Homo sapiens: one gene and its partners. The protein of the gene in region 7 purifies or fractionates together with the protein of the main gene of each other region. This does not show direct contact. Each region holds a gene or a part of one and is shown on either strand. Other genes may lie near its edges.

Region 1 (3,500 bases), on a different chromosome or scaffold from region 7:
ACTGTATGGTACTTGTGGTCATGAAATATGCAACATGTATATAGAAGACTGATAAAAATAATCACTTTAGCTATGTCCCTCATCTAGTTAAGCGGCTTAGCCTGCCAGACATTTCTTTATTAAATATTTTTCAATAGGGGCTAATAAATATTTTAACTAGTCTCTTAATTTAAATATGACTGCCATATGTGTTTTATACTTAAGTCACCCTGACTTAAGTAAAAGCTGATAAAGCTTGATTTTTTCACTTCAGCAAGGCTGCTTAAGTTTAGGGATTCAGAGCTTTCACAGACTCAAAACCTAGTGGTTTTGAAAATTTTAAAAACTTGGGTTTTAAGGGGAGAAAATTTATCTGAATTAATAATTTTCCCTAATTGTTTTTAAGAGTACCTGTAAACATTCTAAGCTTCTGGTATTCAAAATCTGATAGATTGGTGCCCTGGGTGTGGAAAACCTGAACAAAGGCAGAAATAACTGAAAGATCAGTGAGCTTTTGTGCTTATACACTGATCCTAATATAGACATTTAGAGCTGGAGAGGATGGTTGGAGAGTCTCCAGTCTTGGCCCTCTTTGTTTAGCCACAAAATTTTGGGTGAGCAAGGATAGTGTGGCATGACCATCACACAGAGTGTCAACTCTAGAGACCCCTGCCTTTGTTTGTACTCTGCCTCCAATTACAAGTATAAGATTTGCAGAAGATTAAATTCCTAAATTTTGTCAGGAAACCTGACAGTTAATTGACACTTTAGCTGGATAAAATACAGAGGTAAGATGGCAGAGTTGAGTAGTTACAATATTGATTGATTTTTGTCTTGGTTTGGAAAGCCTAAAATATTTATGATATGGCCCTTTAAGAAAATGTTTGGTGACTCTTGCTCTAGTCCATTAAATAATCTAGATTTGGGTAGGACCAAAGTGACCAAGAAAGAAAAACCTGAAAAATACCAATTAATTATAATAACAGGACTTTTGAATATAAAAGAATGAGGTTTTAAAAATTTTGATGTACCCCTTATTAATTAGCAGGATATTTCACTTCTTTGAGAGTAGCCACTCTCTTAACTCATGATCAATTATGAATTTTATATTTAAAGAATCTGGTCATAATAATTGACAAAAATCTAGATTTTGATTTGTCAAGCTCCTGAGTATCTGCTGTGAGTAAGGCTGTCTCTCTACAAAGGCAATACGGGGAAAATGTTCTAAGTCTTTACTTTGGGGTCTCATGAAGTTGGCATATCCTCAAGATAGAACGATCAAGAGCAGATTTCATAAAGAACTGTTTCCCAAGGCCATGTTGCTTTTTTTCTGGTCTCTGTGCCGCATGTGAAGCCGGTGGAGACTGCTCTTTCCTCCTCCTCCTCAATTACCAGTTATTCGTTAAAATGAGAAACTTCCTCCTCCTTCCCCTCACACCCTGGCCAACATTGCAAAATGTTATATAAATGAATTCATATAGTTTGCAACCTTTTGTACCTTCTTAAAAACAAATTAGTGTATTTTGGATATAGATCTGCCTTTTTAATTTCATGTCTGCATAGTATTCCATTTTATAGGCATACTTTAATCAATATTGATGGGCTGTTTATAGCAAAAATTTGTAACTATGAAATTACAGTATCAGAATGTATGAATGAATTTTGATAGGTATTTCCAATTTTTTCTCAGAAAAGAGTGTTTCTAATGTGCAAAAGTTCTTATTTTTGTATAAGAATGCCTATTTCCCCATACCACCAGCAACATGGTATATCATAGAACATTTTACTTTGCCAGTCAGTTTTTTTAATCACCACTAGTCATTTTTTTCAATTTTTGCAGTTGCTGGGTGTTATATTTGGGCTAAGTGAAGTTTAATTCTCATGCCTTGAATATTGCAAGAGAGTATTTCATTGCAAGAAATAATGTTGGAGATAAAATATTTGTGTAATGTTTCCAAGTATGTTGTTGGAATGTTTCAAAAATCAATGGAATTTCAGTATAGCAGGCCTTTGGAAATGAGCCTGTAATAGTTAATGGTGAGGATAAGAAATTATTATGTAGAGCTTAATATTCTTAAGCAGACTGATTCCCAAGCATGAGTAGAATTTTATCAAGTTTATTTGTTTTAAAATCAATACAAGTTGATTTCATTGAAATAAACAAATTGGGAAAGAAATACTTATTTCAGACCTCATTTTGAGAATGCTGGCTTCTCTAATAGAAGTTAACCAATTGAAAGGAGTGTGGGGAGGTGGGGGTGGGAAGAGAGATTTTTTTTCCCTTAGCAAACCAGTCATTTCTGAGCTTAGCATTTTTATTGCTCAATTTAACATTGCCTGAGAACATAATTGCATTTGAGTTTATAGCTGTTCTAACAATGTTTTGATGTACAGAGAACAGAAATGTATTTCTCTAGGAATTAGGTACTTCATCGGTCTAGAATTGACTTAAATTGTTTAGTAAACTTTAAATAATATTCACCTCTTAAGTGTGTTTAAGGTGCTTTGCAAATGGTGAAATGGTGCAAATGGTGCAAGTGGTGAAATAGTGAAACTGATGGATTTGAGCAGGAAATATATATCCCGAATGGGCAGAATATAGGTTAATGTGAGGGTAGAAATTGGAGTGGGTGACTTTATACCATGGAGAATTCAGATTGAGGACATCCTTATGTGTATGTGTGTCTTAGTAGTGGTTAATCTTCCACTTCAAACTTTGAGAGTCTGTTTATGGATTGGGTACATTTTGCGGAAATTAGATTGACCCCCAAATGTACAGAGGACCCTGTCTTTTAAAATCAAATAACTGAGGCTTTTCCTCATCAATGAGAAGTTAGAACAGCAAATTATCTCACAAAAAAATTATATTTTGGGAGAAGGTAGGTCAAAAATTCTAGAATCATTTTCTCTTTAATCCAGCTTAATCCTTTTGCTTATCCAAAATAACATGGCATGACTTTATTACTATTCCAATATGCTACCACAGAAGGTTTAGGACTTATTGAAATAAAATGATGACGGAAGAGTGACCTTTCAAAAGTAATATGTATGTAATACCACAGAACCGTGGATTTCAAAAATAGTGAATGTGAAGGAAACAAAAAACCTTCCAACTACATTTTTTTTGGCATCAGAATTTGTTTTCTACCATAGGGCTATTCACATACTGAATTTCGTTTTCCAAAAACCAAAAGACCTGAAAAGACCACTATTAAACACACACATTCTTGCTCATTCTACTCCCCAGGCCTTTGCTGTCCAGAATGGTAGCCACTAGCCACATGTGTCTACATTTAAATTAATTTAAATAAAATTAAAAGTGCAACTCAGTTGCAGTAACTATATTTCAGGTGCTCAGTAGTCACATGAGGCCACATGACAGTGCATATGTGGTATGTCTCCATCGCTGCAGAAAGTTCTTTCGGACAGCACTCGCTAGACTAGTAGTGGGGATGCCAAATAAGAGAGACTTGATTCCCTGCTGGCTTTACGAAGAGTTCCTGGGAGGGAAGCTGAAGCTT
Region 2 (3,500 bases), on a different chromosome or scaffold from region 7:
AATTTCTTTAGGATGTAGTTCCAGATTTAGAGTGACTAGATCGTATGCTATGAATATGTGAATTTTCTCATGGTCATTGATACATTGTTCATACCTCTGATGACATTCCAAATTAATCATCCCTTTTGGAAACATTGTATCTTTTGCACTACAGATTCTGTTTTATTTTTAACATAAAGGTAGTGTGTTTCTCTTAACATTTCCCACTGCCTGGAGTAACTATTATTAATGGTGACATTTTGATGTATGAGTATATTTGATTTATTTTTAAAATGGCATTAGCCCTTACATGCTATTTTTAAAAAACTTTTTATAAGGCCCAGTGCGGTGGCTCATGCCTGTAATCCCAGCACTTTGGGAGGCCGAGGCAGGTGGATCACGAGGTCAGAAGATCGAGACCATCCTGGCTAACACAGTGAAACCCTGTCTCTACTAAAAATACAAAACATTAGCTGGGCGTGGTGGCACGTGTCTGTAGTCCCATCTACTCAGGAGGCTGAGACAGGAGAATCACTTGAACCTGGCAGGCGGAGGTTGCAGTGAGCCAAGATCGAGCCATTGCACTCCAGCCTGGGCGACAGAGCGAGACTCTGTCTCAAAACAAACAAACAAACAAACAAACAAAAACAACAAAAAACCAACCCCCAAAAAAACCTTTTTATATACAAGCAAAAAAGTGCATAAATCATAAGTGTACAGTTGGATGAATTTTCATTAAATGAACACACTGTGTAACCAGCCCCTGATCAAGAAACAGAAATGTTCATGTCCTGCCGGGCGTGGTGGCTCACGCCTGTAATCCTAGCACTTTGGGAGGCTGAGGCGGGCGGATCACGAGGTCAGGAGATCGAGACCGTCCTGGCTAACACGGTGAAACCCCGTCTCTACTAAAAATACAAAAATTAGCCGGGCGCGGTGGCGAGCGCCTGTAGTCCCAGCTACTCGGGAGGCTAAGGTGGGAGAATGGCGTGAACCCAGGAGGCGAACTTGCAGTGAGCCGAGATTGCGCCACTGCACTCCAGCCTGGGTGACAGAGTGAGACTCCATCTCAAAAAAAAAAAAAATGTTTGTGTCCCTTGTTGCTATCCTGTCTTCCTGTTTTTGTTTTTTGAGACAGGGTCTCACTCTATCGCCCAGGCTGGAGTGCAGTGGCCAAGATCTCGGCTCAATGCAACCTCCACCTCCTGTGCTCAAGTGATCCTCCTGCTTCAGTCCCCTGGGTAGCTGGGATTACAGGTGTGCACCACCACACCTGGCTAATTTATGTAATTTTTTTATAGAGCTGGGATTTCGCCATGTTACTTAGGCTGGTCTCGACCTCCTGGGCTCAAGCAATCCTCCTACCTCGGCCTCCCAAAGTGGTGGTATTACAGGCATGAGCCACTGCAACAGGCATGAGCCACTGCACCAGGCCTTGAATATCGTGTTTTAAACTTTACTAACCTGAGAATAAAACAAACAAAAAGAGGGTATCTTATTGTTTTAATTTAGAGTTCTTTGATTTTGATTTTGTTTGTGAATGACTTATTCAAGTCTGTGGTAGATTGTATTTTTGCTTCAAAATGTTACCCACCATCCCTCTGTGGAGTACATTTCCCTGCCCTTTGACCTTGGAGTTTGGCCACGTAGGATAGTTAACTTGTCCTGGTTTGTTTGGAATGTTCCTGATTTTAAAACAGAAAGTCCTGTGTCCTGGGAGCCCTCTTAGTCCTGGGCAAACCAAGCAGGTTGGTCACTCTATTTGGCCATGTGATTTATTTTGTCCTATGGGATGTTAGGGAATATTAACATATGCCTTGTTGAAGCAGAAAATGTCAAATGCATCTGTGTGGTTTGGCTCAGTCTGTCTTGTGCTTCTGCCCTCTACCATGAGAACAGCCTGGTTTTCAGAGATTTCTCGTTCAGTCTGGGTCCTGGAATGAGAAGACACAAAGAATAGACTCACAAGTGACTCATAGCCCCCATGTAACATGAGGGAGAAATAAATAAATGTTTTGTAAGTTGCAGAGATTTTGGGGTTGTTTGTTGTGTGGCACCATTGACTAATGCCATGTGTTACACCAAATTTTCTTTGGATTTTTTTTTAATGATTTTTTTTTTCTTTTTTTGAGACAGAGTCTCACTCTGTCGCCCAGGCTGGAGTGCAGTGGTGTGACCTCGGCTCACTGCAACCTCCGCCTCCCAGGTTCAAGCGATTCTCCTACCCAGCCTGGCAAACATGGCGAAACTCTGTCTCTATTTAAAAAAATAATAGGCCGGGCACGGTGGCTCACGCCTGTAATCGCAGCATTTTGGGAGGCTGAAGCAGGTGGATCACGAGGTCAGGAGATGGAGACCATCCTGGCCAACATGGTAAAAACCTGTCTGTACTAAAAATACAAAAAAATTAGCTGGGTGTGGTGGTGCACACCTGTAATCCCAGCTACTCAGGAGGCTGAGGCAGGAGAATTGCTTGAACCAGGGAGTCAGAGGTTGCAGTGAGCCGAGATCGCACCACTGCACTCCAGCCTGGCGATAGAGTGAGACCCTGTCTCAAAATAATAATAATAATAATAATGGTAATACAAAGATTAGCCAGGCGTGGTAGTACATGTCTGTAATCCCAGCTACTTGGGAAGCTGAGACATGAGAATTGCTTGGATCCAGGAGGCGGAGGTTGCAGTGAGCTGAGATCACGCCACTGCACTCCAGCCTGGTTGACAGCGAAACTCTGTCTCAAAAAAAAACATTGAAAAAAAAAATTGAAAAAAAAAGTATTGTGATATCAATTTGCTTTTTTCCTTAAAATTAATTTTCTAGACCACAGTTATGTACCTTAGAATGGATAAATAAATTAGGATATAAAAGGCTTCTGATTAAATTTGTAAGTTAATCAACCTTTTTTCCTGTGGACATCTAACAGTAGGAATAAATGATAGTTCCCTTAATAGGGGAAAGGTTCAATTCTTACAAGGTGGCTTTAGAAACATACGACTCTCAGTCCATGCCCTGAAGTGACAATAGAGATCTACAGACGTGTCTAGTAGTTAAAGTTGGTGCTCCTCGTGTGACGAAGTCTGCACCTGTCTTTTATGACAGTGCATTGTGCACGTAGCTTATGGCACACACAGGCTTTTTCCCTCACTTTCACCAAGTTGCCTTATGGGTTAGCTGTGGCCTTGCTTTGTCATCTACTGTCTAATTATGGCTTTAATCAAGATGAGAATCAAGTAAAAGTTTCTTATCGCAGTTCCAGAGTCCAGGATACTGATGCTTTGAAGTAAAATGCTGTTTGTTTTTAAAATTTCTGTTTTCATGTCTTTTTTATGTGGCATATGTTGAGTTTGGAAAAGCTAAATCTTGAAGACAGAATTTCAGTAGATTAAAAAAAAACCACAATAGAATATTATAAATAGAATTTTCTGATGCATTTTCTTGGATATAATTGAATTGTTAATATCTCCACCAAAAAGGAGATGGTGATAGAATATGGCTTACAAATACATCTTTTACCAGCTTTT
Region 3 (3,500 bases), 4.2 Mb from region 7:
TTATGAGGGTTTGGGGTGTTAAGGGAGGGATATGTTAAATAAGACCTTAGATCTTAATATTGATCTGGTGTTGCATTGTAGAGATGTTGCCCTAACTTGGTTGAGAATGAAGAAGGCCCTTGAAGTGGTAGTCTTGGGTATTTTGGGAAACACTGCCCTCCAACCCCCAATGGGAGTGACCATCAGAGGAGCTGCTGGTTGGCCCAGAGAGAAACCGGCAAACACCATCCTCCTCCTCTTAAATTTACCCAGGTCTTAAGGCTCTTTGGTGGTGGGGCGTGAATGACACAGCCTTGAGTCAGGGACTAGCTGAGGAGCCCCCGGCCCAAGGAAGGTCACTTGCGAGTTGGTGTGGTGCTGCGGCCTTGTGGCTCTGGGGCCTGATGGGCCTGTTTTACTATTTTTTGTTTACCTGCTGTGTGACCTTGTGTAAGTCATTGACCGTCAGCCAGAGTTTCTGACCATACCAACATCAAAAGATGGTTGGGGGCAGGGGTGAACATGATGATCATCAAAGTGCCCAACTCAGGGCTTGGCACGTTAGAGTGCTGGTAGATGTTGATTGATTGATTGTTTTAGTGAGCATATAGGTGCTCCATAAATCTAAGTTTCATTCCATCTCCTAACATCTTCAGCCATGTGTATATGAGACATGGAGTGGGACTGGGGGGAAAAAAGTGAGAAACTTGAGATTTTCTTCCTTAAGGAATGATCTTCCCTAGAATTGGTGGGGAGGAAAGGAATTTAAAAGATGTATTTTCCCAATTTAAAAAAGCCTTTATTCATACTTAAATAACAGCATACATGATAATTTGATGAGTAAATCAAACTATATAATTTTAAAATTTGCATATTTTAAAGTTTTATCAGTTACTTACAGACTGTTTGCAAAATAGAGGGAGGATCACTCATAATCTTACATAGCACTGTCAGCAGTCTGCTGTCCTGTGCCCAGTCGAATGGATTGACACTAGATATGCATGTCTCATGTCATTCGTATATTTCCGTTTCCCCAAGTCTTCACCTGTCCCCATCTACCCAGATCATTTGGGAAATGTAAATGTGCAGTCCTAAGCGCTGCCCGCAGGGTCGCGATGTCTGCCAGGTACTGCTGGCTGGCTCTAGACACCAGCAGCAGTGATAAGAAACAAAGCAGAGGAGACAGTTAAATGGTAGAGAAGAGAAGGGGGAGCAGAGGTGGTAGGCCGGGAACAGGGGAATAAGTATGGTTCTCCCCGCACGTGCCCATGTGCGCACACACCGAAGGCCATTTAAAGGGAAGCGGTTAGGTATGAGGTTGTGTTTGCTGAATTAGTGGTTGGTTTTTGCTGTCTATCTAGATAGCAGCTGCTGCCAGCTCCTCGTCTAAGAGGCTTTCTTTGCTGCCACCTTCACTGGTTTGTGGAAAGCTTCTGGCCCCATAGACTGTTGAGAATTCCAGGAGAAAATTCCTAATTAGCGGATCCCGTTTGAATGCATTCTTACAGGACTGCATATGTACAAAAGAAGAATTGGCTTCATTGGCCCCACATAGATGTCACGTGAGAGTGAAAAAACCTGGGGTATAAATATCAAAGGAACCCCTATCTGCTGGTTTGCTGAGGAGCCCACTTCCAGCAGAACCTTCTCTGTCCTTCTGAGTCTGTAGAGGGCGCTTATGTCACTGGAATCCTAGTCTGGCATGGGGCAGGCAGAGGAGCAGGAGCCCCCAGTGGGTTCAGATCTTCTGAAAACTTGAGGTTAGCGGATCTGCCCTTTGAGGGTCTCAGGCTGGATTTGGGCCTGGAGTCCGTGTTTCTCCAAGGGTGTTGCTTGGGTGAGCGCTGGAGTGCACTTGCATGTGTATGTACTCTCACGCCCTCGTGGACTGGGAAGGCGCCGTAGCACAGGTTAGATTCCCTGCTTTCAGGGAGCCTGGTTCATTTTTGTCCTCGTTGTATATAGAGCTTGAACTTGGTGTTCCCCAGGTCCAGTACCACTGCCGTTGCTGCCTGCCTTCTGTTTCACTGCTGTTTTCTGAGTGCCTCGTGTGCAGCCTGTCCTTCAGCCCTCCCTGAAGCTCTGCTGACCAGCTGTGTTCCCAGCTCCTTTTCACGTGCTCTTTAGCCAGCCTTACCCTGCATTGTACTTACTTGGGTCAGGTGCCCCTGCTAGACTCTTAAGCCCCTAGGGGGCAGGGATCTGGGGGCGTCATCCACCTCTGCAGCCCTAGCTTCTGGTATAGCATGTGATAGGACATAGCATGTGATGGGGCTTCTCGGATAAGAAAGGGATGAGTCCATCTGTTCACCAGTAACTATTAGGGATGGGGATTTGTGTTTAAAGGTGGGGCAAAGGAGAGAGTGATTCAAAGTAATGGATTACTTCAGTGAACCTATAGGTTCCTTAGTAGGAGAGAGAGATTATTCTGGGCAAGAGGTCCCGCCCTTGGTCTGCCAGCATTTCCCCAGAACTACCGGCTTGTGTTTTGGTGTTAGTTTCTTCCTCCTACAGTGCTGACTTTCTCAAGTAACTTTCAGCTATTGTTGGACATTCTTGATCAGGGGATAGTTAGTAAACTGCAGTCAGTGGGCCAGATCTGGCCCACTGCCTGTTGCTAATAGAGTTTTATTGGAACACAGTTATACCCATTTTTTAATGTATTTGTGTGTGGCTGTTTTGTGCTAGCGTGACAGAGTTGAGTAGGTGTGGTAGAGACTTTTGGCCACAAAGCCTAAAATATTTACTACCTGGCCCTTTTAAAGATAAGTTACTAACCCTCTAGTAACTGTCAGCCCATCGTTTTGTGGTGATTGTCTGATGTGGTCAAGAGGCGGTGCATGCATAAAAAGTTTTAAAGGCCTGGGTCGGGAACTTTGGGTAAATAATCAAGGTACTTTGAGATCTTTTCCTCATCTGTGAGATGGGCATTAAAAACAACACCTGTCTCGCGGGAGGTCTTGCGCACTGCTAGTGGACGTACATTGCGGATGTCAGAGCAGGCCCTAGTTTGGCCGGGGACATTATTGCCGCCGTTCTGTTTCTCAGGAGGAGGAAGCCAAGAATCTGGTGAGCGAAGCCATCGCAGCTGGCATCTTCAACGACCTGGGCTCCGGAAGCAACATTGACCTCTGCGTCATCAGCAAGAACAAGCTGGATTTTCTCCGCCCATACACAGTGCCCAACAAGAAGGGGACCAGGTGAGTGAAGGAGACGAAGTTCTTCCTGGGTCCCCTGGCGTCGTGGCCACCCTTGGTATCTCCATGGCATCTGGATGGAGTTTTCCTGGTTCTTTCCACATTAAGTACATCCAGTGTTCCCAAATCAACCTCCCACACAGACCTTCGGCTTGTTACTTGCTTTATGACAGTGGGCTGCTGTCAGGTGTAGGAAAGTGATTTAATTTGATGGGAGAGGTGGAGGGTGGCCCAGGAAAGAGCCCTAGGCTGGGAGGTGGGGCCGGAGAGGTTTGGATCATCTGCTGTCCTTTCTCAAGTGTCTTAAAGAATCCCCTGATTTCT
Region 4 (2,797 bases), on a different chromosome or scaffold from region 7:
AGAGCTGGAGTTCTGGAGTTCGGGCTTCCAGGCCAGGGCCTGCTTCTGGGTGAGAGTGGGAGGTAATGGTTGCTTGAGGCAGAGGCAGTAAACCCTCACACCCGCAGCTGGACAAAGGCACCAGCTGGCTGTATTCTGTGGGGGCAATGTGGCTTCTGGAAGGTCTCTCCAGTGGCTCTGTAGCTGGTCTTGGCAAAGAATGTTCTAGACCAAGGGTTGTCAAACTACAGCTCATGGGCCAAATCCAGCCTGCTGTCTGCTTTTGTAAGTAAAGTTTTATTGGAACAAAGCCATGTTCATTTGTTACATATTGTCTATGGCTGCTTTCACACTGCAACAGCAGAGACCATGTGTCCTGCAAAGCCTAAAATATGTTCTGTCTTATCCTTTACAAAAACAGTTTACTGACCCCTGCTCTAGACCTCCAAAGACCTGGTATCCTCTTTCCTGGTGTTCAAGTTCAGAGAGGTGTCTGGAGTAGGGGCTGAGCCTGGCCTGGATGGGCAGTGCTGTGACAAGTGTCTAGGATGGCCGGGTATCCTGCACAGAGCTAGAAGGCTGCCTGGCACGGGTGAAAGCAGAGCTGCTCCCTGACCCTCTGCCCCTCCCTCCTCCACCCTGGCCTGCTTTAGCTTTCCCCAGACATGGCCAACAAGGGTCCTTCCTATGGCATGAGCCGCGAAGTGCAGTCCAAAATCGAGAAGAAGTATGACGAGGAGCTGGAGGAGCGGCTGGTGGAGTGGATCATAGTGCAGTGTGGCCCTGATGTGGGCCGCCCAGACCGTGGGCGCTTGGGCTTCCAGGTCTGGCTGAAGAATGGCGTGGTGAGTGGCACCCTGGGCTAGGGCGCTGGGGGGCTGGGGTGTGCCACCCTGTGAGTCCTGGGCCAATCCCTGAGCTGACTGCTAAGCTGCGTCCTATGCCCTATGCCTGGTAGATTCTGAGCAAGCTGGTGAACAGCCTGTACCCTGATGGCTCCAAGCCGGTGAAGGTGCCCGAGAACCCACCCTCCATGGTCTTCAAGCAGATGGAGCAGGTGGCTCAGTTCCTGAAGGCGGCTGAGGACTATGGGGTCATCAAGACTGACATGTTCCAGACTGTTGACCTCTTTGAAGGTAGAGAGGAAGAGGCTGGGGGAGGAGGTGGGCAGGAGGACAGGGTGCTGGGACAGGGAGAGGGAATGACCAGAATATGCCACAACTAGGGGTGTGCTTGCCCGCACACAGCAGGGATGGGATATGCCGAGAATAACACGCCACGCTCACAGGGCCCACTGAGAGGCCTCCCTTGAATTGGGGACAACTCTTGGCCCTGGTTTGGCCATTTTTTTGTGAGAGACGGGGGCAGGCCCTGGCTTGGAGTCTTGTTTATACGTTCTTGATGTTCATCTCCTCTCTCCTGTCTTCTCACAGGCAAAGACATGGCAGCAGTGCAGAGGACCCTGATGGCTTTGGGCAGCTTGGCAGTGACCAAGAATGATGGGCACTACCGTGGAGATCCCAACTGGTTTATGAAGTATGTGGCCCCCAGGGAGCTTGGGTCTCCGCATGGGGTGGGAGGTGGCTTGTTCTAAGGAGCTTGCGGGAAGGATTAGGGGAAGCAGATAGCCAAGAAAGGATAAAGTGAGGGTCTGGGATGGGGAATAATGGGTCCTTAATACTCCTTGACCCCTCCCTTTCCACCCTCCTGCGCTCAGTCTCCCTAGCCTATGAGGCAAGCTAGATTAGGGAAAAAAAGTGCAACAGGAAGGCAATGGGATTGGGCTAGGACGTAACAGAGGGATCAGAAAACGGGTGGAAAACACACAGTTCTACCAAGTCTTTATCCTGGTTCCTCCTCTTCTAGGAAAGCGCAGGAGCATAAGAGGGAATTCACAGAGAGCCAGCTGCAGGAGGGAAAGCATGTCATTGGCCTTCAGATGGGCAGCAACAGAGGGGCCTCCCAGGCCGGCATGACAGGCTACGGACGACCTCGGCAGATCATCAGTTAGAGCGGAGAGGGCTAGCCCTGAGCCCGGCCCTCCCCCAGCTCCTTGGCTGCAGCCATCCCGCTTAGCCTGCCTCACCCACACCCGTGTGGTACCTTCAGCCCTGGCCAAGCTTTGAGGCTCTGTCACTGAGCAATGGTAACTGCACCTGGGCAGCTCCTCCCTGTGCCCCCAGCCTCAGCCCAACTTCTTACCCGAAAGCATCACTGCCTTGGCCCCTCCCTCCCGGCTGCCCCCATCACCTCTACTGTCTCCTCCCTGGGCTAAGCAGGGGAGAAGCGGGCTGGGGGTAGCCTGGATGTGGGCCAAGTCCACTGTCCTCCTTGGCGGCAAAAGCCCATTGAAGAAGAACCAGCCCAGCCTGCCCCCTATCTTGTCCTGGAATATTTTTGGGGTTGGAACTCAAAAAAAAAAAAAAAAAATCAATCTTTTCTCAGGCCTGGCTGGCAGAGTTTGATTTGCCCTGGTCACTTTTGTTATGGTTTCAGATCTGCGCAGGGGACAGGCAGGCATCTCGGGCTTGTATGTGTTCCTGGCTGCCGTCCTCTGAAGGACCCTTCATGTGCCAAGATTCCAGGACAGTCAGATTCTTTCAGAGGAAACAGGCCATAGAACAGGAGAGTGAATCTTGGGGACCGAAGGGAAAAAGGAGCCACTCAGCAGCATGCAGTGGCTTTGGGGAGACAGAGGAAAGGAGAGATTGCGAGTGGCAGAATTGTTTGGAAGGTTTTTATTTTGGAAAAGCTGTGCAGAAAAAAATTCAAGAAAATGTTGCTGTGAAAAGAGAAAAACAAATCTTAAGCATTAAAA
Region 5 (4,037 bases), on a different chromosome or scaffold from region 7:
TATCTGGCGGTCTTGATTTGAATCTACTAATCATCTTTCGGCCTTTTTTTTTCTTTGCTGAAATGTATCTAAGAGCTTAGAAGTAGCATTCTGCTCATTTCCCCCCCACCCCCAGGAGTGCCCCAAGCTTTCTTGAGCTGACTGATTGTAGATGTTCTTTTTTTTTTGTTCCCCAGTGTGTTGCCTGTGAGTGTGACCTCGGAGGCTCTTCCTCAGGAGCTGAAGTCAGGATCAGAAACCACCAACTGTACTGCAACGACTGCTATCTCAGATTCAAATGTAAGAGAGCAAATCAGAGAGAAAATTTCTTGCCTTTTAAGGAGGCCACGGGTTCCCATGCATTTCCCTGAACCTGCAGCGAGCTCCCCTCCAAGTTCACTGCCATAGGATTCCAGGTTTCAAGAATTGTAGTGTGTTCCCTTCAAAGAGTGTGTATAGTGAATGGGTCACTGCTCAGGGTTCCAGCTACACAGGAGTGGGTTGTGGGGCCAAGGAATGGAGAGGAACAGTGTCCAAAAGTCAGGATGGTGTCTTGTGTTATCTGCCCAGAGTCCGCAGAGACCTTTAATGACTCAAGAATACAAACAAACCAAAACACTTAAATGAATCTTCTATGTAGGATTTGTTTCTTGACTAAAGATTGGTCCCTCATCAACTTCTATTATTTAACAATGGGCTTTGATTATGTGATTTAGAATATGACCAACTTTAAAAAATATTGTTCCATGTAATACAAAATAAGTCAGTTTATGCTTTATGTTAATATATGTCAATATATAATTTTAAAAGGAAAGTATTAACTATGGTGTTTCAGTGTCATTTTTGGAAAAAATGAGTTTTTCAAAAAACTTCAAATGCTACTTTGCATCTAAGCATGTGTTTGTGTGTTATAAAAGGTAGGCTAGCATAACTAGGTTGTGTGTTGTGTATAGCTACAGCAAGACAAGTATTACTGCTGTTTTATATTTTAAACCTTGATGCTGGTAACATGTGTTTCTTCCTTATTGTGAAAGGGTGTTACAAGTGGTATCAGCAAAATCATTTGCTTTTGAACTCTGAGGTATTTATATGGCCCCTATGTGAAGAGTGCTTTGGAAATGGTTTAAGCCCAGTCAACTCTCTTTTATCTGTCGGTGGGTTCTGAGCCTTCCTGCTGCAGCTGTCCAGTCCTTTCCTGGATGCTGACACTGAGGTTGGAGAAAGTCAAGGCTGGGCATGTACTGGTGGGGGGTGTGTGTATGTGTGTGTGTTTTTCTCTCTCTCATCAAATTCCAAAGCCAAATAGAAATGATTTCTGGAATCACCATTGTAAAATTGCCCATGCCTTTTCTCTCCTCCAAAACAAATAATAGAGAGTTGAGTGTAATTTATTTCTATTGTGAGCAGTTCATTTTTACTCCATTTTTACAAATAAAGAATTCCAGAGACGAGACACTGAGACTTGCCTAGCTTTATCCTAAGAGTGAGTGACAGGTTACTCTTTCTACCTCATTGGGCCACTTTCTGAGTGATGACTGCTATGTATCCCAGATGGCAATATTCACGTTTCTGAATCTAAGCACTTTTCTTTCTTTTCTCCTTGCCCGATCAGCTGGACGGCCAACCGCCATGTGATGTAAGCCTCCATACGAAAGCACTGTTGCAGATAGAAGAAGAGGTGGTTGCTGCTCATGTAGATCTATAAATATGTGTTGTATGTCTTTTTTGCTTTTTTTTTAAAAAAAAGAATAACTTTTTTTGCCTCTTTAGATTACATAGAAGCATTGTAGTCTTGGTAGAACCAGTATTTTTGTTGTTTATTTATAAGGTAATTGTGTGTGGGGAAAAGTGCAGTATTTACCTGTTGAATTCAGCATCTTGAGAGCACAAGGGAAAAAATAAGAACCTACGAATATTTTTGAGGCAGATAATGATCTAGTTTGACTTTCTAGTTAGTGGTGTTTTGAAGAGGGTATTTTATTGTTTTTTAAAAAAAGGTTCTTAAACATTATTTGAAATAGTTAATATAAATACATAATTGCATTTGCTCTGTTTATTGTAATGTATTCTAAATTAATGCAGAACCATATGGAAAATTTCATTAAAATCTATCCCCAAATGTGCTTTCTGTATCCTTCCTTCTACCTATTATTCTGATTTTTAAAAATGCAGTTAATGTACCATTTATTTGCTTGATGAAGGGAGCTCTATTTTCTTTACCAGAAATGTTGCTAAGTAATTCCCAATAGAAAGCTGCTTATTTTCATTAATGAAAAATAACCATGGTTTGTATACTAGAAGTCTTCTTCAGAAACTGGTGAGCCTTTCTGTTCAATTGCATTTGTAAATAAACTTGCTGATGCATTTAACGAGTGGGTCGTCTTTTTCTTAGGTGTATGTGTCTGACCTCAGGCCTTTTAGCCATATTTCAGTATGTGGCCTTTTTTGATGTTATGTTTTATCCAGTAGCTTTACTAAGGTATAATTGATGTAATAAACTGCATATATTTAAAGTGTATACTTTGACAAATTTTGACATGGTGTATACCTTCGAAACTATGCCACAGTCTGGATGTGTTTACTGAAACATTTTAATAAGGAAGTTTATTTTTGATAAAGTTATGTTTTTGGATACAATATATTTGTATGGTGAGAGTGATGAATTGTTGGATCATTTGAATAAAATCTTTTACTAACCCCATGATAAAAGGAGAAGACAACAGTGAGCTTAGAATATCTATAAAGCAAAAAATGTAGTCTCTTGTTTAAAAAATCTGGAGCGGGAATGCAAGGATACAAAACTTTAGCATGCTTTGAGCAAAAATTTAAACTTACTGGAATCTTTTATAATAATGTAAGTGGAATGGAGGATTCTAGGAACTGAGAACTGTATTGGAATAGGTTCAAAATATGTAAGAAATGCTAATGTGGGAGATAAAAATTTTATTTAGTACTTATTCTGATTATTATTAAAGTAATAATGTGTTCCTTGAGGATAACTTGTCAAATGCCCCAAAGCATAAAGAATATAATTCTGAATCCCAAATTCCAAAGACAAGAACTCTGTGTTTGAATTCATTCTGCATATAATTATTTATAAGTATAGATTGTGAATTTTTCCATGTTCTTAAAATTATTTTTATCTTTTTTCATGGTTGCATAGTGCTCCATTGTTTGGCCTTGGTAATATTTAGTTGATAATTCCATTACTGTGTATTTTTCACTTGTTTCTAAGATCAAACATTTTAATATGTGCATGTTATATATAAATATGTAAATTCTGTGATACTCTATGATCATCTCTTTCTTTATATTATTTTCATAGACATGAAATAGTTGCTCAGAGATTATGCATTTTAAGACACTCATAGTATATATTGCCAAAGTGGTTTCCAGAAAGGCACTGCTGGCTTCGACTCCTATAAGCAGCACGTGGGCTTGTTCATCTCACTGCATGTTTATGAAGATACAGTTCTTTTGCCTTGTTCTCTGCCTGATGTGTATGCAGAGGCAGCCCTCAATATGCAGTGGTTGAATAAATGAATGAAGAAACCACTATCAATTTCTGCCTTGTTAATTCTGTTTTCCACTGTCCCCAGAGGATGCCTTAATTCTGCCATCATTTTCGTTTCCTTATCCAAAATCCTTTCTGACCATTGCTCCTTTTCATCTAAGCCTTTTGTCTTTTCATCTGCTCTTGTTTTCTTATGATTTTTTCCCCCATTTCTCACATTATCTTACTTAGTGATAACATTTCTGTTAGTACAAATTATAAGTACAGTTTTCAGAGCTATTTTCTTCTAGGATACCGGCTCTACATTTGTATAAGCCCTTGGGTATTTGTTACTTCACCTAGGAACAAGGGAAGAGTCCAGCCCTTCAACAAATTTTTTAATTCATACTTTATGCTCCAGGCACTGCTTTTGGCACCATGGGTAGAACAGTGAAGAAATACAGTCTTGGCTCTGATTGGTCTTATTTTTCTGGTTGAGGGAGGTGATAAAACAATACATGAAAAAATAACATGCAGGTGGCGATGAGAGCAACAAAGAACAAAT
Region 6 (3,430 bases), on a different chromosome or scaffold from region 7:
CTATTGCCATTTCACCATAGGCACACTAGAGAAAAAGAGGAAGGTTAGTCAAGGATGGTGCCAATGGCCAGTCAGTATCGGCTTACAGCTTGTAATGCGTCCTGACATCACTATCAAGCCTGACTATTGAGCACCTGTATCCAGTTGAGTCACCACCACTGTCCTCCTATTTGCATGCATGATTTGAGGGGAAGACTAGAGTGTTTTAAATCATCAATAAAAAGTGGAGAAAACAAAGGTTATTCAGAGCCTGTCTCACTTGGGGACACAGATCCTTCTGTCCAGTCTATCAGAAATATAGAATACATTTTTCAATCTAATGAATTAATTTTAAAAGGGACCCTAAACAAGAAGCCCAATCAAATGCACACAAGTAATCTAGAAGACATGATTACCTCTAAAATATGTGCATATATCACAGAGATGTTAGTGCAGATTAATATATTAAAGAGACTGTTAAACAACTGAGGCTGAAGTTTTAAAAGAGCCCTCCCCCCAAATCTTCACGAAACATAACCTAAGAAAAGCCCAAATGTTACTAGGAATGTAAGACTTAAAATTATAAACTCCTAAAAAATAGAAGTGCATGGTGGAAACACTGATAGGTCTTTTACTATATGAACACAAACTTCTTTGTTAAAAATGGATACCTGAACAAACCCATTTAGGCAAATAGATTAATCTTTAACACCCTCATTACAAAGTTCACACCTCTGAATTTAACCGTCATGAAAGAGAATGATCCAACTGCTATTTATGTTCAAGTCCTGTATTTTTGGCCATGTAACTGAAAACTCCTTATTCATTCTTTAACACACAGTGCAATAGTGAAATGACTCTGCCACTGTGTGTTTTTTAAAAAAAGATCAGAGTAAGCATGTTCCTAGTAAACCACAAAGTAGGATATTGAGGAAGCAAATCTAGATTAAAAGGCAGGAAAAAAAGGCAGAAGTTTAAATTTCACTAATTTTTCAATTTATTAGCATACCAGGACCCTTTAAACCTTGTTCCCATTAGCGCCTGGTATTAGATGTGAAGGATCAAACCTACGGATCTATCTCCTGACTGCTTTTATAAGGCGTGTAAAAGTCGGTTTTCAACTGCACACAGGCCTCCTAAAATGCCTTGTTTCTCTAGTCCCTCCTGCTTTAAGCAGCATGAGCAGTAAAGCAGGGGTTGGACCAAATAAAAAGACAAGAGCTAACTGAATTGTATGGGAGCAGCATTTAACATATTCCTAGTCAAGGACAGGATGGGAAGTAAGTGAAGAATAGGGCCAGGAAAATAGTGTCCTATAGCAGAGGTGGTTGGCACTCGGGGTAGGGTGTGCAGTGGTGCTCTACGAAGCAGCAGGATCACAGGGATGTACTTCTTATCACATTTCTATGAAGAAATGGGAAGATCGGGATATGAAAAAGAAAATGTTCTATCCCCAAATAAAAGCAGAGCATGGTTAATGGGACCTGAATGCACATTTATAGCATAAAAGAATGTCAATTCTATTTCATAAAGGAAAAATCTCAACTCTTTGTGACTGAGTTTCACATTAACTGGAACTTTATTTGCTTAAAACCTAAACATTGTCAGTTTGAAAAGAAATCCACTGTGACCTGTAGACTGATCTTGTTGATTAAATTCTAGGGTTTTTTTTTTTTTGGATTCTTGGTAAAATTTTATCCAAAAAACAGGATACATATATATTTAGAGAAGGAAATATGAAATCAAGAGTTTTGGCAGCCCCTGCTTTTTTTTTTTTTTTAGCTCCCTAAAGACTGTAGCAGGATAAAAGGATCACTGGCTCCGAGTCTCTTTGAGATAACAAGTGATGAAATAAAAAAGAAAGCCCATACCCTCAAATAAGGTCAGGTAACCCCATTGCCCACCCTCCCTACAAGGTAAAAAATGAGTACTTTTAGTAACAGTTCAGAATTCATCTTTATCTCCTACCTGCCTCATCGGTGGAAGTTTAAAGTCATGATTTTTTTTAGACATTGATACTTGTGTCTATAGACAAATAAACTCATATTAGATGACAATTGATTTTTTAAAAGTCCAGGTAGAGAAAGGAGCAATCATTTTGAACTAAAATCTTTCTATGTTTTTTGATTACTATTCAACTTGCTATTTTTTAGCAAAAAGCGAAGTTTCAATAGTGTTCATCTCAAATCTTATTGCTTTACAACCGTGGTACACCTTTCATTAAAAATAAAAAGATGAAGCAGTCAATCCAGTGATTAATTTGACATGGCTTTCATTGGGAAAGGGGAGGGCTGGCAAAGAGACCAATAGACAAAAAGGTAACTTAAACACTTACACATACAATGGTTTGCTTTAAAAAAAAAAAAAAAAAAAGAGAGAGAGAGAGAAATGTTACTTTCAACAAATGGAAAAAAGCACTGAAAGCCCATGAGTCAAGCCATAGCCAAAACCATGTTCTATCTTAAGTAGGTTCTTTTTTTTCCTCCCTCTTTTTTCTTTTTTTTTCTTTTTTTTTTTAATAAAATCTCTCCCCAGACCATCATCACTTTTAATCCTCCCCAGAAGGGGCTTCATCTTCAGACCCTTCATCCCCAGATTTCTCGGGTGGGGGGCTTGTAGATGTTTTCTTTTCTGGCGGGCTTTCCGGTTCCTCATCTTCTTCTTTGGGAGAAGGAGTCTTTTCCTTTGATGCCTTTGAAGCTGTGGGGCGACCCACTTTCCCTTTGCCTTTCACTGGACTTGGCGTCACTGAAAATAGAAAAATAATTTGGGGAAGGGAAGAGAAAAAAATGTCTTTAATAAAAGTCAGCTACAAAATACAACAATCTGTAAGAATAAAATCTATAAAGACAATATGCAACTTACTAAAAACCAAGGTGGGCACAAGGGAGCACATATATCCCTAGGTAAATCTATCTCAGTTTCTAAACTGGTCATAAGTTACTACACTATGCTACAGTATTTCCCATCAGTTTTTACCAACACTCTATGATGTTAGCAGTAATACCTGTAAAGAAGAAGCACCATGCTATAGAATATGCACAACATCCTTAATTGCTTGGTAAACTAACAGTTGTTTATGATAAAAGTTGTTTATAAAAAGCAGGTCAAAAAGACGGAAGGAAAAGAATTAATCTGATCAGAAACTAAAGCCATCAAATAACATTTGATAGTTCCATCATTCCTAACAGTAGGAAGTGATAAACAGAAGTTTAACAATGACTAGTTCTACCTAACAGAATAAAACCACCTACACAAAAAGCAAATTGATTTCTGATTTAGTTAACAAACTAGCTCCAACGAGGAGAAACCATTAGGGCTCAGAAAAAAATCAACTCATGTCATCAAGTGTGGTTTTATTCTGATAGCACAGAGGATGGGGTAGAGTTCAGAACGTGGAACTTAAACGTATTACTCTAGGTTTGTGCATTTTCACAATTAAGTCTTTGCT
Region 7 (3,500 bases):
GAGATATAAGGACACTGGAGAATTAGTAAATGCCCTTGGCTCTCAGCTGAACTTTGATTTTCAGCAATGAGGCCCAATTCAGTTCCTTCTCACTCAGACTCCCTCACCAACCAGTATGCTCGACCACATTTACCAAATTATTATCAAGAACTTAAGCCAAGTAATTCCTACACAGGAAATTATCCCTAACGCCAAAGTCATCCACCTCACCTTTCTTGGGGGGTATATGTCCCTAAAATACTTAATAGAAAGGGGTATTTAGTTCCCCAAACATGCATGTCACAATTCAATGGAACATCTCTTACCTTTCAGTTCAGTGGCCTCTAGCAGTTTCTTCCACAAACTGATCACCTCATTCATACGAGCTGCCACTTCATCCTTGGCATAGTGGTTGACATCAATCAGCTTTTGGCCAGCTTTCTCCAAGGCATCAATTCGGCTCTGGTTTGCTGAGAGCTCAGCCTCAAAAGCCTGATGCTTCTGTACTTTTCCTTGTAGGTTGGATGGATCCTGTGAATAAAAGAAGGGGGTTCTTTCTATCTTGAACCTGAGAACGTCAAGTTCCCTTGCACTACCTTCATACTTATCTTTATGGAGGAATGTATAAAACAGTTGGCTTACATTAAGTAGTGGGGTTTCTGGAATCCCTTATTTCGTCCTTTAGCTACAATTTATTTGTGAGAGCTGTGTTTAGCTTACTAATCGAGTGCTACATGGCAACACTAACAGTACATTACTTTATAAGCTTCATCTGTGGCAGTTTTCATCTTCTCATTGACCCAACTCTTGAGCTCATCAGAATCACGGAAAAACTGCTGCAGATGGAAAGAATCGGCTAGCTGGGCCCGGCGACGCATGGCTCTCTCGTGAAGGGCATTGCGGCGGCTCAACAGCTGAAAGACAAGGATCCCCTGTGAGTCTCTAGTGTTCACTCCCAAAGGGATATCCAGTTGAAGAGACTTAACTGGAACATCTTAGAAGAGACATTCATGTACCAAAAAGGAGGAGCATGAAGAACCTACAAACTTACAGCATCTCGGCGAGTGGCCACATCTTCCATTGCATAGTGGTTGTTCTGAATTAGCTTGGTTGCAAATTCATCTAATGCCTAGGAAGGAAGATAAGAGTTCTTCATTGGTAAGCACACTAGTCCCAAGCTTGGCCTCTGGAGAAAAGTAACTGCTGAACAGATCATAAAACACACCAAACTTTAACATAGGTCAAGGTTTTCACCCAAAGGTTGGTGATGACATTTTTTCTCATAACTTTTGAGATTTTGCTTGATGTCACCAGTCAGATATCATAAGACTGCACTACCTCCATTCAAGACTGGAGACATTAGTTGTGGCACGATCTCCTGGCAGGGGTCAAACACAGGTTAACAGCTTTCCAAATTCTTATTTCTAAGATGTATTTTCAATGGGAAGAGTACCTCTTAATATTAACCCTGACCTACTTTTAATGAAGGGTACAAACTTAAAGAAGTTTGGAGGTTTCCATTAAGTAAATCATTTTTCCATAAAGTTGTATTATGTCTTCAACGAGATAGCATGTCATCCTTGTGAAAGTTTAAGCACCCACAGGAGTACTCTGCATATGAATCTTTCATCAAATCTGTTTGGAATCCTTCCAGGGAAAAAGACTCTGGCTTACTATAAGGGTCATTTGAAAGCACTGACAAGAAGGGGTCTTACTGTAATCTTTTCCTCCTGGGCACTAAGGGATTTCTCAAAGTCTTCGTGCTTCTTAAGAAGCGCTTCCACACTATCCAAGGAATCTCCCAAGTCTTCATTCAACAGGAACGCCTTGCCAAAGGAAACAAAGTGTTCAGAATAATGTCCTATTCCTTTGATCTTCTAAGACTGTGAAGCAAAGGGTATTTTGGCCAAAATATAAAAAGAAGGAAAGAGATTTTATGGCTGCTAAACTTCTAAGATCTCTTCTAGGAAGTCTAAAGTCCTTTTGGATTTTCTTAAAATCAATCCAGCCATATCATGAAATCCTATTCCACATTCTATTGAAACTTCTCTTACATAGTTTTTGTTGCTTCTATTAGATTCAGATGTTACATAATGCTAAGGTTTGTTTTTTTTGTTTGTTTTTTTTTTTTTTGTGAGACAGGATCTCGGTCTGTTGCACAGGCTAGAGTGCGGTGGTACGATCATAGCTTGCTGCAGCCTTGAGCTCCTGGGCTCAAGGGATACTCCCATCTCAGCCTCCCAAAGTGCTGGGATTACAGCAGGGAGCCACTGCACCCAGCAATGCTAAGTTCTAAGAAAAAAATCTCTTTAATAAAACATTTTACATCACACTAATCTGAAAAGCTGGGGCCTTTTCTGAAGGCCTTGCAATCTCAGCAGGGAGAGATGCTGGCAGAGCTGAGAGAAGCTTGCTCAATTCCCCCTCTTCAATGGATTCAGAACTAACATGGTACTGATGTCCTAAAACAAAACAAGCACACTACCCGAGGAGGCAAAACACAGGCCCTTCTTCTCCCACCACTGGCAAGGCTTTGCTCACAGATTACCTCCTGCTTGCTCATCCAGTTGTCCACCTGCTCAGTGTCCCGGTAGAAGAGCTGCAGGTCCATGCACTGCTCGTACTGCTGCCTGCGCAGCTCCCACAGCTCCAGCAGCGCCGCTCTCTCCTCGGAAAGGACGGTCAGCTTGGGGGCATAGGAGACATGGTCAGGGAGATGAGGTCAGCCCCAATGCCTCCGAGGCAGACAGAACAGCTATCCTGGAATTCCTAATCCTAGTGCTAATCTTCAGGCCTTTTTTCCGATTTGCAAAAGGGGAAAAACAACATTCACTTGTATGTGCATGTTCAATATAAAAGGGATGGCCTGTTTTAATTAATCTAGAATTAATTTATTGCCAAATGATCACAAATGACTTTAGGTAAAAACAGTAAGTAAACTCCCAGGTAGAAGAAATAGGGCATCCATTTAAAAGTGAGGCAGTATAAATGGAGTTTAATGGAGTATAAATGGAGTAGGGACTCTCCACTAAGAAATGTCAACTGAGTGGGTGCTCCATAACATATGGAAAATAAATTCAGAAACTCCCTAGACTTTAGGCTCCGAAGCTACTAATGACAAGTCTTTGAAATGTCTTTACTCTATGTAATACTAAAAAACATATAAATCATATAAATCATTATTTATCTAATGTTCCTAGGCAATTTTATACTCGAAGATACTTCAAAACTTATATACATATGTGTATATATATACACATATAAAAAAAGTAAAATAAAATATGTATATATATACATATTTTATTTTTATTTATTTATTTTTTTTTAGAGACAGGGTCTCACTCTGTCACTCAAGCCAGAGTGCAGTGGTGCAAATCATAACTCATTATAACCTTGAACTCAAGTAGCTCGGACTATAGGAATGTGCCACCATGTCTGGCTAATTTATTAATTTTTTGTCCAGATGGGGGTCTCACTATGTTGTTCAGGATGGTCTCCCATTCCTGGCCTCAAGCAATCCT

Evidence for each region.
Region 1: the proteins of SPTAN1 (region 7) and TSPAN3 fractionate together in Homo sapiens (co-fractionation; one large-scale study listed by BioGRID). This does not show direct contact.
Region 2: the proteins of SPTAN1 (region 7) and CTPS2 fractionate together in Homo sapiens (co-fractionation; one large-scale study listed by BioGRID). This does not show direct contact.
Region 3: the proteins of SPTAN1 (region 7) and PSMB7 fractionate together in Homo sapiens (co-fractionation; one large-scale study listed by BioGRID). This does not show direct contact.
Region 4: the proteins of SPTAN1 (region 7) and TAGLN purify together in Homo sapiens (co-immunoprecipitation; one large-scale study listed by IntAct). This does not show direct contact.
Region 5: the proteins of SPTAN1 (region 7) and LMO7 fractionate together in Homo sapiens (co-fractionation; one large-scale study listed by BioGRID). This does not show direct contact.
Region 6: the proteins of SPTAN1 (region 7) and NUCKS1 fractionate together in Homo sapiens (co-fractionation; one large-scale study listed by BioGRID). This does not show direct contact.

What each region holds. Positions count from the first base shown.
Region 1 is NC_000015.10:77,047,110-77,050,609, reverse strand, and holds part of TSPAN3 (tetraspanin-3), read left to right. Parts: intron 1-3,500. UniProt on the Homo sapiens protein: Regulates the proliferation and migration of oligodendrocytes, a process essential for normal myelination and repair.
Region 2 is NC_000023.11:16,699,170-16,702,669, reverse strand, and holds part of CTPS2 (CTP synthase 2), read left to right. Parts: intron 1-3,500. UniProt on the Homo sapiens protein: Catalyzes the ATP-dependent amination of UTP to CTP with either L-glutamine or ammonia as the source of nitrogen. Constitutes the rate-limiting enzyme in the synthesis of cytosine nucleotides.
Region 3 is NC_000009.12:124,356,443-124,359,942, reverse strand, and holds part of PSMB7 (proteasome subunit beta type-7 precursor), read left to right. Parts: intron 1-756; exon of another isoform or gene 757-3,027; coding exon 3,028-3,179; exon of another isoform or gene 3,180-3,500. UniProt on the Homo sapiens protein: Component of the 20S core proteasome complex involved in the proteolytic degradation of most intracellular proteins. This complex plays numerous essential roles within the cell by associating with different regulatory particles.
Region 4 is NC_000011.10:117,202,370-117,205,166, forward strand, and holds part of TAGLN (transgelin), read left to right. Parts: intron 1-632; 5' UTR 633-644; coding exon 645-824; intron 825-937; coding exon 938-1,115; intron 1,116-1,412; coding exon 1,413-1,515; intron 1,516-1,845; coding exon 1,846-1,990; 3' UTR 1,991-2,797. UniProt on the Homo sapiens protein: Actin cross-linking/gelling protein. Involved in calcium interactions and contractile properties of the cell that may contribute to replicative senescence.
Region 5 is NC_000013.11:75,856,330-75,860,366, forward strand, and holds the end of LMO7 (LIM domain only protein 7), read left to right. Parts: intron 1-176; coding exon 177-279; intron 280-1,591; coding exon 1,592-1,614; coding exon of another isoform or gene 1,615-1,684; 3' UTR 1,685-3,537; downstream 3,538-4,037.
Region 6 is NC_000001.11:205,715,753-205,719,182, forward strand, and holds part of NUCKS1 (nuclear ubiquitous casein and cyclin-dependent kinase substrate 1), read right to left. Parts: intron 2,728-3,430; coding exon 2,528-2,727; 3' UTR 1-2,527.
Region 7 is NC_000009.12:128,580,087-128,583,586, reverse strand, and holds part of SPTAN1 (spectrin alpha chain, non-erythrocytic 1), read right to left. Parts: intron 2,666-3,500; coding exon 2,528-2,665; intron 1,806-2,527; coding exon 1,695-1,805; intron 1,109-1,694; coding exon 1,031-1,108; intron 894-1,030; coding exon 738-893; intron 511-737; coding exon 306-510; intron 1-305. UniProt on the Homo sapiens protein: Fodrin, which seems to be involved in secretion, interacts with calmodulin in a calcium-dependent manner and is thus candidate for the calcium-dependent movement of the cytoskeleton at the membrane.